3 separate regions of the Homo sapiens genome follow, and regions 1 and 3 are each linked to region 2. Evidence: fine-mapped expression QTL. A gene starts in region 2. Each other region holds a variant in brackets. All regions are shown on one strand. Distances are between the middles of the regions. Region 1 overlaps ITGBL1 (integrin subunit beta like 1). Region 2 holds the start of NALCN (sodium leak channel, non-selective). Region 3 overlaps NALCN (sodium leak channel, non-selective).

What was found. PIP is the estimated chance that this variant, and not a neighbour inherited with it, causes the effect.
Region 1: its variant is the best candidate, but not a certain one, in a credible set for the expression of NALCN in tibial nerve (GTEx, PIP 0.52).
Region 3: its variant is the best candidate, but not a certain one, in a credible set for the expression of NALCN in lung (TOPMed, PIP 0.51).

What each region holds. Positions count from the first base shown.
Region 1 is chr13:101,466,725-101,471,956 of GRCh38, forward strand. The region is part of intron 2 of ITGBL1 (integrin subunit beta like 1); the gene reads left to right. Among named protein-coding and RNA genes, the nearest start is that of ITGBL1, 17 kb to the left of the region's middle. The variant T/C (reference allele first, on the strand shown) is at 2,920.
Region 2 is chr13:101,414,188-101,419,419 of GRCh38, forward strand. NALCN (sodium leak channel, non-selective) reads right to left here and starts at 2,321. Exons shown (of 44, transcript NM_052867.4): 1 at 2,126-2,321. RefSeq lists enhancers at 1,122-1,672, 1,673-2,223.
Region 3 is chr13:101,327,139-101,332,370 of GRCh38, forward strand. All of the region lies in intron 7 of NALCN (sodium leak channel, non-selective), which reads right to left. Among named protein-coding and RNA genes, the nearest start is that of NALCN, 87 kb to the right of the region's middle. The variant T/C (reference allele first, on the strand shown) is at 2,500.

The DNA of each region.
Region 1 (5,232 bases), 53 kb after region 2:
ACAAAAAATAGGTATTTAGCACAGTTCTGAGTAAACAGTACAGATCGATCTTTCCTGGAGCTCTGCTTTGTATGGTTTTGAATTACTGTCTAGTGTCCTTTTATGTCAACCCGAAGGAAGGACTCCTTTAGAATTTGTTGCAGGGTAGATGGTTTAGTCCATTCAGGCTGCTGTAACAAGATACCCTAGACTGAGTAATTTAGAAACAGGACAAATTTAATGCTCACAGTTCTGGAGGCTGGGAAGTCTAGAATCAAGGTGCCAACAGATTCAGTGTATGGTGAGGGCTCATTTTCAGCTTCCTGGATGGCAACTGTATCCTCACATGTTGGAAGGGGTAAACAGGCTCCCCCAAGCCTCTTTTATAAGGGCACTAATCCCACTAATGAGCCTGGAGTGCTCATGACCTAATCACCTCCTGCAGGCCCACCCACCTTCTTAATACTGTCACGTTGGGGATTAGGTTCCAAAATATGGGTCAATATTTATATCATAGCAGCCGGTCTACTAGCTGACCTTGGCAAAGGGAAACCTCACATCAGTGGGACGGGGATATTGAAGCCTTTGTCCTTTGGGAAATTTAGCTTCCAAACCTGGTCTGAGATTTAAAGGCAAGAGTCACATCTAAGAAGGTGGAAAAGTCTGGTACAGCTAGACTGAGAGTATCAGGGGAATTTACCAGGGCGTTTTTGGGACTCTACGTGGGTAAATTCTCAAGCTATTTTCTAATAACTTCTAAATTGATAAAGATAGAGAGCTGCATGGGGGTTGCAAATCTCATTTTCTTTGGAAAAGGAGTGCTTTGTCTTTCCAAGAATCACATTTCCTGGCAAATAAGAAACTATATTTTGTAATAGAAGTCATTCTCCTGTCTACTCTAAATCATCTTACTTAAGGCTGGGTAGAAGAATGAGGGCTTTATAAAGAGAAAAGAAAAATAAGACTTTTATAAGGGTGCTTACTGATTTGACTTTGTACAACCCCACTCTTAGGTTATACGATAAAATCAGTCCCTGTACCAAGAGCCCTATCGTTGTAATTGTTTGTACATAGTCACTAGTTCAAACACCGAATTATTTAAAGTGAATACCTACCCACTCTAGTTTCCTGTTCTGTTATTTTATCTGGAAACTTCCTAGGGAAAGGTAGGCTAAATTTTTTTTTTTAAAAGAGGTCAATGAGTTTGGGCATTGCTTAAAAACTTCTCTTACGGCAAGGTATTAACTGTAAATTCATGACTTAGTCAATGGGGTAGAGTAAGGAGCCAAAATCAGAAAATGAAAACGTGGTAAATGCATTTCCTAATTGTTCATTACTGCTTTTTCAAAGCTATCATTTTCTGCTGAGCAAAATAGTTAGACAAAACTAGTTATTTTTATAAACAAAGTGACTTGGCCATTTAAGCAGTTTCCTCTCCAAAATACAAAAGACAAGTTATAGACTATTTTCTTTTCTTTCCTGGGCAACACCATTAGTTATATGAGCTCTAAGAGCTGTCTTGACATGGAAATAATTCACTTGCTTCAAGAAAGAAAGTATTTGATTTGTTAACTATGTGCTCGAGAGACTTCTCTCAGTTGCCTGTTTGGATAATTTTAAGCCTTGAAATTAATGCTACATTAGAAATACAAATGAGTAAGAGTAGTATCTACCTATATTTGAGTATAGTATGCTGGAAAATATTTTCATACATATGAATTCATTCACTTTTTATAATAACTTTTAAGAGATAGTCAAAACAATTATCCTCCAACTATTGTGCTAAGTAAGCCTGAGGAGAAATTCCTCCCACCCCAAATCAATAGAAGGGTTTTCTTCAGCATTATAGTAAAATTATCCTAAAAGCACATATGTAGGGATAATTTCTTCATGAATTTTGGAGTACTGAAAGAAAAACATAATTTTCAGAAACTTTATTTACATTTAAAAATATAACTTCTTTTTGGAAAAGTAGATTTTGATTCTTATTTTTGTCTTAGAGAGTGCATGTAAAAGCTCAAATGGTAAGAAAGTACTGGGCAAAAGAACCCGTTATGCATCTCATGTTAAAGAAAGTGAGATAGCCGAAATCACTGGGACAAAATTACTTGTCGTACTGATAATGAGCATTTTCTCAGCTGTAGTTGAAGTTTTTAGAGAGATTGCATTTAACATCAACCATATCCAAATAAGAAGGATCCTCCTGAGTCAGCCTTTGAAGGAACTCCTCCATAACCTAATTTTTCTTGTCTATAAAAGTGAAAGAAAAGGTAGGTAGGAGAGTTGAATCTACATATTTGTTATTTCCTTGGGCATTACCTTACATTATTTTGTGTATTACATATTTTGGCTATTACGAATAAGTCACATCAGAGATTCTCTTTTGTTCTTATAACATTACATTTCATAAAGTGAGCTCCAAAAATTTAAACACATGCAGGTTTTAATATACGTATAGCCTTTTTGAGATCAAAGCTATGCGAGCCAACAATACTGCAAAGAGAGAGAAGAAAGGCATTTACAGAAAGCTGAACAGTTTTGAATGGATCATCATGTAGGTTCACTTTGCATCTTGGAAATGAATGGGTGGACCGTGGGTCATAATATGAAGGCTTATGGGGACATCCTGCCTACCTGGGATTCTGGATATTGTGGTCTTTCAATATTTCAAATATCCCTGTTAATACACCAGTTGTTGCCAGGCGCTGTGGCTCATGCCTGTAGTCCCAGCACTTAGGGAGGCCGAGGCAGGTGGATCACCTGAGGTCACGAGTTCGAGACCAGCCTGGCCAACATGGGTGAAACCCTGTCTCTACTAAAAATACAAAAATTAGCTGGGCATGGTGGTGGGTGCCTGTAATCCCAGCTACTTGGGAGGCTGAGACAGGATAATTGCTTGAAACCGGGAGGTGGAGGTTGCAGTGAGCTGAGATCACACCA[T/C]TGTACTCCAGCCTGGGTGACAAGAGTGAAACTCCATCTTTCCATCTATAAAAAAACAAAAACAAAAAACACCACAAAAACAGATGTTGTATTTTAAGACCTATGAGTGGCAATGCGCTGATCTTTTATTAAAAGATAGTACAGTCTTTACTGAATTTAACAATCTTTTCCTTGGGAAAACTAAGCAGGCAGGTTTGGGTAGGATGAAAATGCAGAGGCAGAATGCTCTGGAAAATGCTTGGGAATTGGAATTAAAAAACAAAGCTGTTTGATCTTTCTCCGCTATTGTTGCTGCCTGTGTGATCTTGCACAAATCACGTAACTTCTCTGAGCCTCAGTTCAGTTAAATTCAAAAGGCACTTATTAAACATCTCCAGAAGGATGTCTAGAGAAGAACAGGGAAATCTTATGATCAGACCTAGCCTCATTAGCTGTGAGATTTCAGCCATCAGATGGCAACAGGAGCTGGATCTCCAGTTACTGTAGATTTGATAAGAGGGTGGAAAGAATTTGTTTTCTTACAGTTGACTGCAAAACGAAATATTCTGTTACCTTAGCTAACCTTGGAAGCTCTGCTTTCCTTGAGGATTTAAGAACTTTCATATCCATAAATAATTATTTAATGCATGTCCAGTGCTTGAAAGATAGTATAATATAGGCATTACTATTTTATTCCTTTTTTAATTAATTTATTTTTTTTTTTTGAGATGGAGTCTCGCTCTGTCACCCAGGCTGGAGTGCAGTGGCGCGATCTCGGCTCACTGCAAACTCCACCTCCTGGGTTCCAGTGATTCTCCTGCCTATGCATTACTATTTTATAAAGTAGACGTGGTGTTTGTCTTTAATTCCCCAACTATATGCACACAGTCTGTTAAAGCACAATGAAATAATGATATTTGTGTGCATCTCAACATTTACCCTCTGGGTGTATAGTTATCAAAAACCATAATAGTCTCTGCTGCCCTTTATATGAAAGTCAACTAGGCAACCTAGCAAGAGAGCCATGACTTTGAAGAACAACTAATGAATGAGGTGTGTGTGGGAGGGGTGGAGGGGTGGTGTTTAGAAGAGAATAGCAATAGTCTGGAAAAAAATTCCTTTTCTAGTAGGACAACATTCTATGGGGTGCCCTTAAAAATCTATTTAATTATAATCATCCTATATGCTTATTCTTAATTTGAAATAAGGTAATGATAATACAGCTAACATTTATTTAGAATTGCTACATCCTTCTTGTGTGGTGTTAAATTCTCCCAATAAACAAATATCATCTTACCATTCTAAAGATAAAAGCATGAGCCTCAAAAAGATTAAATAAAATGTTTAAGATCACATGTTGTCTGAAATAAAAACTGTGCAATCAGTCACTTTGTTATTAAGTTACACCATTTAGTACAGTGACACTGGCTAACAAATGCCCCAAGAAGTATTAAATCTCTTTTCTGAATTTTGAATTATCACATGCATTATTAATCTACCATAATTAAATGTCATTTTCATATGTGAAAGTGTGAGAGGGAGAATGCTGAGGAGATTGAAGGAGAAAGACTATATGGGTTCCAAAACTGGCTCGATTTTGGGAAGTTAGTTGATTTGCTTGTGCCTCTGTTTCCTCTTATCATAGTGTTATTATTGAGAAAACTCCCTTGCAGGTAATAAATCCTCAACAGCAACTTCTTTTTGTTATCAGTATTATCAGGCCATTCCCATGTCACTATGATTAAATTATATACTCCTCAAGGGCAGGAATAGTATCTGATTTTCTGTAAGATTTTCTCTTAGGTCTTTGTTGTTATTGCTTCAAGAATGCTTCATTACAGACCACCACAACATTTAGTGGCTTACAGAAAGGCAACACAAATATATATGTGTGTGTGTGTGTGTATGTATGTGTGTGTGTGTGTGTGTGTGTGTGTGTGTGTGTGTATATATATTTCTCACTCTTGGGTGTGCAAATGAGCTACAACTCAGCTAGGCAAGCCTGGACTTCAGGCTGAAGGCTGGCTGCATTCTGCTGCACGTTATTTTTATGCTACCCAAGCTACGTTTTCGGTATTGTGGATCACAGGAGCACTAGAAAGTGAGACGAAATACTTGAGATCTCTTAAATCTTTGACTCTGAACCAATAACATGCACTTTATATCCAAACATCACTGGGCAAAAGGAGCCACAGGCCCAAGCCAGATATCTCTGCTCTGCATGGTGGGAGTGAGTGAGGAGCTCACAGCAGTAATACCATCAGTAGGATTTAGAAGGGATATTCAAATATTCAGTGAAATTAATTTATTGACATGATCATAAACATCTGACAT
Region 2 (5,232 bases):
GGGACCATTCTTAATATGTTTAAGCTCACTATCATAGTTTCCACAGCAAAACTAGAAAATAAGACATCTCACTGTATATCCACCTGCTTACATATTTGTCTTTCCTGAAGGATTCTTAGGCTCTCAGTTTATCTCTTTTTCTCACTCACCACCCAGCTTCTGGCCCAGTGCTTAGCTTATCTTAGGATATAGAGGTGTAGATGTGAATTTTCATTCACAAACTTGAAATCCACATGTGACTCTGACCTGGGATAAATTTATACAGCTATGGAAATTCTGAAATTATCTGAACATCATCGATAAATGATAAAACAAATGTGTACATTTGTGTATACACATACATGCACACACAAAGCATGCCGGAATGATAAAATCACCTGGAAACCATTTCAAAGAAATGCCATACCCAAGAAGAAGAAAATGCTACTCAAATCTTCAGTTCACTAAATTGCAACTAAATGACACTATTTTGAGTAGACTTTTTTTAAGTACATTTTTTAAGTACATTTCTCCTTTGAATATCTTGCAAGTCCTATCCAAAGTTATAAGTGTACAACCACTATTTTATAAGACATGCTTTCTCCTAGAGTTCTGTAGAGATTTTAGCATAGTCCTTATCAGTGACGGCACATTTATTCTGCAAACAGATTATGTCTTCTATGAACACAGAAGAGGATCCAACTGAACCTTTTCACTTTTTAAGTTTTTCTCCAAAGCTGGATTTTGTCTTCACACTGTCTGGTTTTAGCAGTGGCTAGGTCAAAGTATACTACAGAAGAACGAAAAATCGACTCTAGAAAAGCACGCAGAATGACAGCCAACCAGTTAGGGAGTAAATGTTTCTCGTTGCAGATGTTTGGGAAGCCATGATTTTTATTTAGAACTGTGGAAACCTTATCTTTGAATTTAAAAAGCCAGTCCTGAGATGCATCTGCCTCAGGGGTAACTACCATAGTGAAACCGCTCCTCTCCCAGGCCATATCAAATCACAGTTGTAGTTATGAACATACAAATCACACACATATATATATATATATACATACATATATATTTCAAAATCGCCACCTGTTAATTTTTGATCCCCTATTAGAGGTGTTATCCACCAACTACTAACACGAAGGTCACTGGTCCTCAACCCACATTTCACCACCAGGGCAGTCGGGCCTAGCTGATGACCACACGAACACCAGATTAAGAGTAAAACCTTCTGAGGCCTGAAAGTGAGCGTGTATTCACACATCCTTAATAATACAGTGTCTGAAAAATTGTACCTGAAACTGAAAGATTTATTCTAAGGTATTTCAAGCACTAAGGGTCTGAGTTCAGCATTCTCACACCATCCTGAAAGAGGAACATTAAGTCAGCAAAATGACTGCGATCTGGGCCCCCAGAGGGATCCCAGCCAGGCCATCCTTGCTGGTGTCTTAAAGATTCAGTGACAAAATGGTGTTGCTTGGCAGGACACTGTTTTGCGTTCGGTGTAGCCACCCTAATGACGGCTGCTTAACAAGGCCAATGAATATCATAAGGGACATTTAGCAAGGAGCAATCCACAGGAGCATGGGGGTGGGGCAAGGCCGCGGAGCCCCCGCGGAGACCTGCTGGAGCCAGGCTGCCCACCCCCACCTCCCCACCCGCGCGTTGGCCCAGAGGTTTACCCAGGCAGCGGCCCTGGTGCCGAGGGGGCAGGTGCAGCGCTGTAGTGATGCCCAGTGGCCTCGTCCTCAGCCACCTGCCCCCCAACACCTGCTAGATGCCCAGGCGGGGCAGGCCCGAGGTGTCGCCGGCCCTGGGCTTCCCAAGCCAGCCCAGGGGCATCCCGCGGCAGGCGCCCCCGACACCCACGCGCAGGAATAGGGAGGGCGCATCGCGGCTCCCGCGCCCCGGCCAGGCCGGCAAGGACCCCACCGCCCCGCTCTCGGGTGGAGGCGCCCCTCCCCACCCCTCCCCCGCGCGGGGCCCCCGCCCGCAGCCCCTCTAGCAGCCCCTCTCGCAGCCCCAGCGCCCCTGAGCCGTCCTGGCCCGGACCGGCCAAGGAACTAACGAGCGCGCATCGCGGGCCTCGGGCGCAGGGCACGGAGCCGGCCGCGCCGCAGCCTCCCGGGCACCGGCGGCGGTGACCAACCTGTAACCCCAGCGCTCAGAGCTGTCATGGTGCCCGCGGGCGGCGGCGGCGGCGACAGTGGGCGACCGGCAGGATCAGTGCCAGGCGCGGCGCCCAGGGCGGGCGGGGACGCGGGCCCCTCACCTACGGCGGCTCAGCTCAGGCAGCGCGCTCGGCCCGGCTGGGGCCGCGGCTCACGCTCGCCGTGTCACTCACTGAGCGCCGCCGCCGCCGGGCAGGCTGGGGGAGGGGTGGGAGCCGGAGTTTTCGGGCCTTTAAAAAATTATTATTTTATTTAAATTTTTAAAGTTAGCTTTGCTACAGGGACTGCAGTGATGCCGAAGGGCGGGCACCGCAGAGGAGGCTGCGCCGCAGTTGGTGGGGAGCGCCAGGGTCGGTACTGGCAGTTCCTTCTTGCCGGCTGCCACCCGCAGTCAGTCTCACAGCAACAGCTAGGCTCTCATCTGCGAGCTCCTCTCGGGGGTCTTTCGTACTCAACAGCACGGCGGCGGTGTGCACGGGAGTCCGCCGGGCACACGCGGGGTACACTTAAGTGCACTGCCAGGAGGCCGGGAGCCCAGCGTGCGAGCGTGAGGTCAGACTGTGCACGGTACCGAGGACTAGTTCCATTCCTGAGTATGAAAGGGTGAAACCGTTCACCTCAAGTTTCACCCCGGAGTTATTAAATAATGAATGCATCAGTCACACTTATAGTTTTCTAAATAGGTTGACGTTCGCCTTTAAAATTAAAATATGTTGTCGTGTGGATGAGACAAAGTCTATTCAGAAATTGACAGTCCCCCACCCCATACCCTGTGAGTATACCTGGACAGCAGACTGCATCTGAGGCTTCCTAGGGCTCCCAGCAGAGCAGGTTTAGGGAAATCTGGCCTCCTAAGCACCATGCCCAGGGCGACATCCTCCCACTCATTCCCACTCTCTGAAAGGTTTACTTTGGGTCTGGAATCTTGCCATGTAGTCAGATACGAAAATCCCCAGGGAACTCCTGACCAGTGATTTAGACATCATGCACACAGGCATATAAATAAAGGGAAAGAAACAACTGAATGAAGCTTTCTCTACAAGAGAAATTCTAAACAAAGAGCATTTGTCTATCACAAAATGTTATGTGGCAAGGTATAGAAGTAAAACTACACAAACCTACATTTTAAAAATGTATTTTCTGGTTACAGATATTTAATTAATCTACTTTCTTAAAAAGTCCATTCACAATTTGTTCACATTCATAATCCATATTAGTACGTTTTATTGTTTACAGGGAAATGTTAAAATATTGGTATTTCATGAAATACAGAGTCATGCGAGATAATTTTTCAAATTTCTAAAGACTTCAGAAAAACTGTGTCAAAAGCCAGGTTTTAAACAAATGATGAAATCACTCCTCATAAGAAAAAATTGACAGTAATTTAAACAATGCTAAATCTACAACCAGTTTGCTTAGAAAAAGTATTTACCAACTTGTTTCATCATCTTTATTTGCGGCTTTCAATTGCTTGTTCTAAATACTAGTTTATTTCACAAACTGAAATATATAGCTATATATATATGGTAGCTGAATGATAGTGTGTTATTCCTTGACATTCGTTCGAATTATCTGTTAGTAAATTATATTAAGGAAATATTTAAACATTTATTTATAATGTTTTGAAGTGGTCAAGGCAGTGATTTTTTACTAATCTCAGTGCCACTCCTCACCCAACAGGCATTTCAGACCTTTCTCTGTCCTTGGTTGAACTACCTCTGTTAAGTCTCTATAATTCATGCTCATGAGCCAAACAATCCCAATGATGATGGAGACAGTCTCAGAGAATTCATGGGCTTCAAGGAAGTCATGGAATCCAGCACACTCATCCTATAATGCATAGGGATTCACTGTGTATTGGAGTAGACAATCATTTTAAAAAACAGGTACATCCAAAATATCATAGTACCCCTTCTACCTGCTCAGTATCTCTCTTCTTTTGTTTTCTTTGTTATTTTTAGAGACAAGGCCTATCTCCGTTGCCTAGCCTGGAGTGCATTGATGTGATTATAGCTCACTGCATCCTCAAAGCAAAAGTAGAAAGGATGAACAAATATCTTTTCCAGGTTGAATTGGCCCTGTAACTACATTCATTGCTGGAATCCAGTAAAAGTCAATTGCTGGCCTGTGGGTTCAATATAAACTGAGAATATAATTCAGGTGTGTTTTGTATGACTCAATGTATATTGTTGACAAATTAAGATCAATTACCAACATTTGAAAACCACAAGAATTTTATTTTATCAGGAAAAATAGGAAGATATGGATAACAGGCAGCCTCCACCATGCCCAGCTAATTTTTGTATTTTTAGTAGAGACGGGGTTTTGCCATGTTGGCCAGGCTGGACTCGAACTCCTGACCTCAGGTGATCCACCCACCTTGGCCTCCCAAAGTGCTGGGATTACAGGCGTAAGCCACCATACCTGTAGGAGTCTGAGGCATGACAATCACTTGAACTGGGGAGGCAGAGGTTGTGGTGAGCTGAGATTGTGCCACTGCACTCCAGCTTGGTTGGGTGATAGAGTGAGACTCCGTCTTGAAAAAAAAAAAAGGAAGGAAGATCTGGCCAGGTCAGTTCTGCATTCCCAAGTGGTAGGGGGCCAATAGGGGCATCCTGTGCCTCCCATAGGTGGGCATATACTTCCCATTTGCCTCCATGTCCCCAGCCTGCTTCAATTCCTGGCCCTGGAAGGTGTTTGCATGTAGGAGCCTATACAATTAAATCTGTATTTGACGGTATGAGATTGGGGAAAGGATAATGTCAAACACAGAGAAAGCAGTCAATACAGAAAGTTTTACAATAAAGAGGATGAAGCCAAGCCAATGCACAACCAAGATAGTAGTAGCCTTTGGTTTAAATGAAATTGTGTTCATGGTCCTGCAAGTGCTTTGGAATGGATGTGATATCATTTGTCTGTGTCCCCATCCAAATCTCATCTTGAATTGTAGCTCCCACAATTCCCATGTGTTGTAGGAGGGACCTGGTGGGAGATAATTGAATCATGGGGGCAGTTTCCCCCATACTGTTCTTGTGGTAGTGAATAAGTCTCATGGGATCTGATGGTTTTATAAGGCCCTTTCTCT
Region 3 (5,232 bases), 87 kb before region 2:
CAGAGAAGCGACGATTCTTACTCTACCCTTGCAAATAATCCACTAGAGAAAGTAATCAGTGGGTTATTTAAACATTAAAAGTGCTATCAATGATAGCGCTTTTGCATGTTTATTGTATTTTAACAAATGATAGTTTATTGTATTTAAATAAATGATAGTTTATTGTATTTTTATTAGTTTTCTGTAAGATAATTATTTTTCTCCTTCTCTGGCTCATTTTCAAGTAATTTTTCTAGCTAAAACATTGGGGGGGATGATATTTAGTATTTTGATTCTAATTTTTTAAGCAATTTCTTTAATCATTCAGGCTCATGCTTCCATTCTAAAGAATACTCACTGATTAAATTTAACCCAGATTCAGTGAATTTTATGTCTAACCTATTATCCACTTTTCAAAAATTCCTTAAAGTGAATGACAGGTTTAAGGCACATAGCCTGTGTATTTGTGAGAGGCAGCAGAAAGGAGGTGACTTTCAGGGATATACCCATCCCAGGTAATCCTTCTTTTAAAAATTCATGTTTAGAGTTCAAGGAACATCGAGTCAGGGAAAGAGGGCCAGAACTGGATTTGTGAGAAATGGATTCTCACAAATCTAGACAAAATTAGAGATGTGTTATAGCCTCTGAGCCTCCTAGGATAAAGACTGCAAAGGATTCTAGGCAGCTGTGGGAAGATAGAATCAAAAAAGAAGCTTGGGCTGAGTGGTTTTTCCTACCTTTATTCTAGTCTGGGGGTTGGCTAACTTTCCGTAAATGGCCAGATGGTAAACATTTTAGGCTTTATGGGCCTCAGGGTTTCTGTTGGAACTACTGAACTTTTCTGCTGTTGGAGAAAAGCAGCCACAGACCATGTCTAAACAAATGGGCAGGGAGTTGCGATAAAACTTTGTTTACAAAAACTGGCAGTAAGCAGGATTTGACCCACTGGCCATGGTTTGCTGATCCCTGCTCTAGTCAGTTGTAAATACACAGCTACAGCATTGCTTTAAGTCTTTAGAAGTCCTGCCAGGACATAGCGTCTCAGCTTAGAAATAGCTTTGCTGGTAGTATCTCAAAGCAGTGCAAGAAATAGTAAAATAGTTTCAAACATTTTATTCCCAATGAAAGTCTCCATGCAAGAGAGCATACACCAGTGAATACAGCATATACTAGCAAAGTAAAATGTGAGTACTGTATTTTTTTTTCTTTTTTGAGACAGTATCTCGTTCTACAGCCCAGGCTAGAGTGCGGTGGCGTGATCTCGGCTCATTGCAACCTCTGCTTCCCAGGCTTAAGCCATCCTCCCACCTCAGCCTCCCAAGTAGCTGGGACCACAGGCATGCACCACCACACCCAGCAAAGTACTGTATATTTTTAAATTACATTGTATAATCATGAGTGTTTTGCCAGACTAAAAGGAGGCAATCTAAATCTAATGCCATGGAATGAATATAGACATAGGTTTGTCTCCTATTTTTCCCACTTTCTATCTGTGTGACCCTATGACTATTTGCTCTATAATTCCTTAATTTATTTACTTAATTATGTATCTAGTAAAGATAATTATAATCAGTTAAATATTGAGAACTCATTAGGTGTGAGGATGAGAATAGTCTACTTTAGTCTTCCTATGACACTCTGTGATATGTACCATTTTTATCCCTATTTTACAGGGCAGAAGAGGTTAAGTAACTTGTCCAACATTCCCCACCTAGTAAGATGCAGACTATGTCCTGAAACCAATTCCTTCTTTTATCTGGATAGGACCATCCACAGAATACTCACTATTGTAGCTCTACCCCATGACAGGTGAATATAATCATCACTGAGCCCTGTCTCTGTCCCCTAAGAGCTGCTTCTGTTCTCTGCATCTCAACATCTGTACCATTAGAATAAGTTAATAACATGTCACACCTGGGGTTGATGTGAGGACTAGGTGACTTTCCTTACATACAATGTAAGGATCCTAAGTATCTTTACAGGAAAGCCTCTTTCAGTTCAACTTCAATTTGGTGTCAAGATTTACAATCACCGCTAGTTTTTAAATGAGATAATATATCTGTATGCACAAATATAGGTTATTGTTTTACTGGACATAAGATGGTAAGAATTGCCTAGGACAATTTACTTGTTTTATATTTAGGTAATTCTGAATTAGGGTTTTTATTTCATATTTTGCTTATTTGCTGAAGTACTTATATGGAAAGTGAAAGCATTTGAATATTTGCTGCAATTAATATTAAGAAGCTTAAGCATCCCAAATCTTAATCCACTGGAATTGTTCTCAGTACTCAATAATTATTATTGCTGATTTGCAGTCTTGTCTCATTCTCTTGCTCTCTAATATTATTTTGTCTTTACACAAATTGACTGCTGATGTGTTGTCTTCCCAGGCTGCACAGAGGTTGGCATAACTATTCAGCAGCAAAAAAATACTAAAAATAATAACACCGAAATGGAATATTTGTAAAATTAAAAGTTCAAGGAAATACCAACTTTTAAGAACTAATGCTTAATTAA[T/C]AAAATGCATTTTATATATAAGTATAAAAATACATTTAGAATATAAAATCATAGATGCATCATATCAAAGAAAGGAAAATTGCATCATTACATGGGAATCCTAAAAATATAAAAACATAGGCTGGACACAGTGGCTCACACCTGTAATCTCTGCACTTTGGGAGGCTGAGGTGGGCAGATCACCTGAGGTCAGGAGTTCTAAACCAGCCTGGCCGAAATGGTGAAACCCTGTCTCTACTAAAAATATAAAAATTAGCCGGGCGTGGTGGCTCACGCCTGTAGTCCCAGCTACTTGGGAGGCTGAGGCATGAGAATTGCTTGAACCCGGGAGGAGGAGGCTGCAGTGAGCTGAGATCATGCCACTGCACTCCAGCCTGGGTGACAGAGAGAGACTGTTTCAAAAAAAATTATATATAATATATATATACATATATATAATGTTATTAGCAGCATATATATATATGGGCTTTAGGTCAATGTGTTGGACTATGCTTATTTAGACACCTTTTTCCCTTACCCTCCTCACCCTATGCCAAATCAACACAAGGAAATAGATAAAAGAGAGTAAGTTTTGAATGTATAAATTATCTCAAAGCTACATGAGCAAACTATCCAGCGGTCAGAGAGTTTGGGAGAATATAAAATCAGAGCTGTGAGCAGCAGCTGAAGCCAAATGGTTCACAGATGTACTTGGAGTCAATATAAATCTTCAGGGCTTCTGGGTCCCAATAGAGAGAGGAGTTGGGAGGCACCTAATATAAGACAGTAAGTTGGAGCTGAGGTGTCTCTACAAAGCTGGGTGTTACAAAGGATTGTTCTGCATTTTATCTGGACTGGAAGAACCCTGGCCTCCAGCTCAGAAAAAAGCAGAATGTTGCTTGACTTCTGTCCAGATCCATGCGGGGCAAAAGAGTCTCCTCAGAGAAATCAGAATCCAGACCTGGGCCAACTGAAGTGTGTAGTCTAATTTTACAGTGCCCCCATAATGCAAATAGTTCAAGGACCTCTCCTTCCCTGATATGGTTTAGCTGTGTTTCCACCCAAATGTCATCTTGAATTGTAGCTCCCATAATAATCCCCATGTGTCCTGGGAGGGATTCAGTGGGAGGTAATTGAATCATGGGGGCGAGTCTTTCCTGTGCTGTTCTCATGATGGTGAATAAGCCTCACAAGATCTGACGGTTTTATAAAGGGCAGTTTCCCTGCACAGGCTCTCTTGCCTGCCCCCATGTAAGATGTGCCTGCCACCAAGTAAGACATACCTTTACTTCTTCACCTTGTGCCATGATTGTGAGGCCTCCCCAGCCATGTGGAACTGTGAATCTATTAAATCTTTTTCTTTATAAATTACCCAGTCTCAAGTATGTCTTTATTAGCAGCATGAGAACACATTAATATATTCTTTAAGCCACAAAAGTAACACGAGTATCAGTAAGAACGGCTGATATCCATGAAACTGCAGCAAACACAACCCCAGTCACAGTTCAGGCCAGAGTACCCCTGAAAAATGAGCTCATAGCCAGTGGAAATGAGCTCATAGCCAATATTATAAACCACACAAGAAAATGAACTATTGTAAAGGAGAGTTAGAAAATATGGAAGCATTAGAAACAAATTCTAAAATAAGCATGTTTAAAATGTTTGGTGAGATGAAGAAAAGATTAGAAAGAAAACAGCAAGAACAGGAATCTAAGATAAAAGAACAGGCAGGTTTGAAACAGAATTAGATAGAAATATTAGGTATAAAAATTATAGATGTTGGAATTGAAAATTCGATAAATAAATAGCAGTCTAGACACACTGAGAGAAAATTAAGAGTTCAGCAAAGAATTTGAGCTTGAAAATACGTAAACAACTCTTGGAGGGACAGAGAATGATAGAAGATTCCTTGTGCAACTAATCAAGGATCAAGAGTGTAACCCAGGGTCCCTGGGTTTTTGGGTACACACTGTGAAGAACTATCCACTTTTAACTGTTGCACCTTGAGTTTCCGTTGTTTAAAAGTGTTCTAGGAAGAAGCCGAGCCCCTGCAAAACAAAGAACAAACACAAAAAACTGGTCCCAGGCATCCGGGGATGCCTGAGCTGGAGATGAACTTTGGAGACCTCTTCACCTTACCATACTAAATGCCCTGCCCAGGGAAGAGCTTATGTGCCATTTTCTGTATGGGCAACATATGAAGAAGCATGAACAACAGCTGTGCCTGCCTGCACTCCACCTCTGCACACAGTGACTCAGCTAAGCAGCCCCCACAAAGCCCTGTTTCCACCTGTGTCTGGGGAGGCACTGCTTTGGGAACTATCCCCAGTGTTCTACTTACTTGTTGCCAGTAATGAAATCCCTTGGTTAAATCCTCCTTGGTTGTGGTCATTGGACTCCCACCTGCCAAGCAACTGAACCCGCCCATTGTGTGGTAACAAGAGAAGTCAAGAAAATAGAGGGAAGTTAGAAAGCACGATTTAAAGACATGGAGGATAGAATAAAAAATATGATAAAAACAAATATTAATCAGTATTCCAGAAAACAAAGAATAGAGAGAATGGAGAAGAGAGCTGTTTTGAGAAGATAATACCTAAAAACCTTCCAGAATTGAAGAAAGGCATGAGTCTCATATGCAGAGAATGAGTTCACAGTAGATAAAAAATAAAAATCCATGCCTAGGCACAGGATACTAAGACCATAAGACAGCAAAGACAAAGGGTAAATCTTAAAAACTACCAGAGAAAAACGATG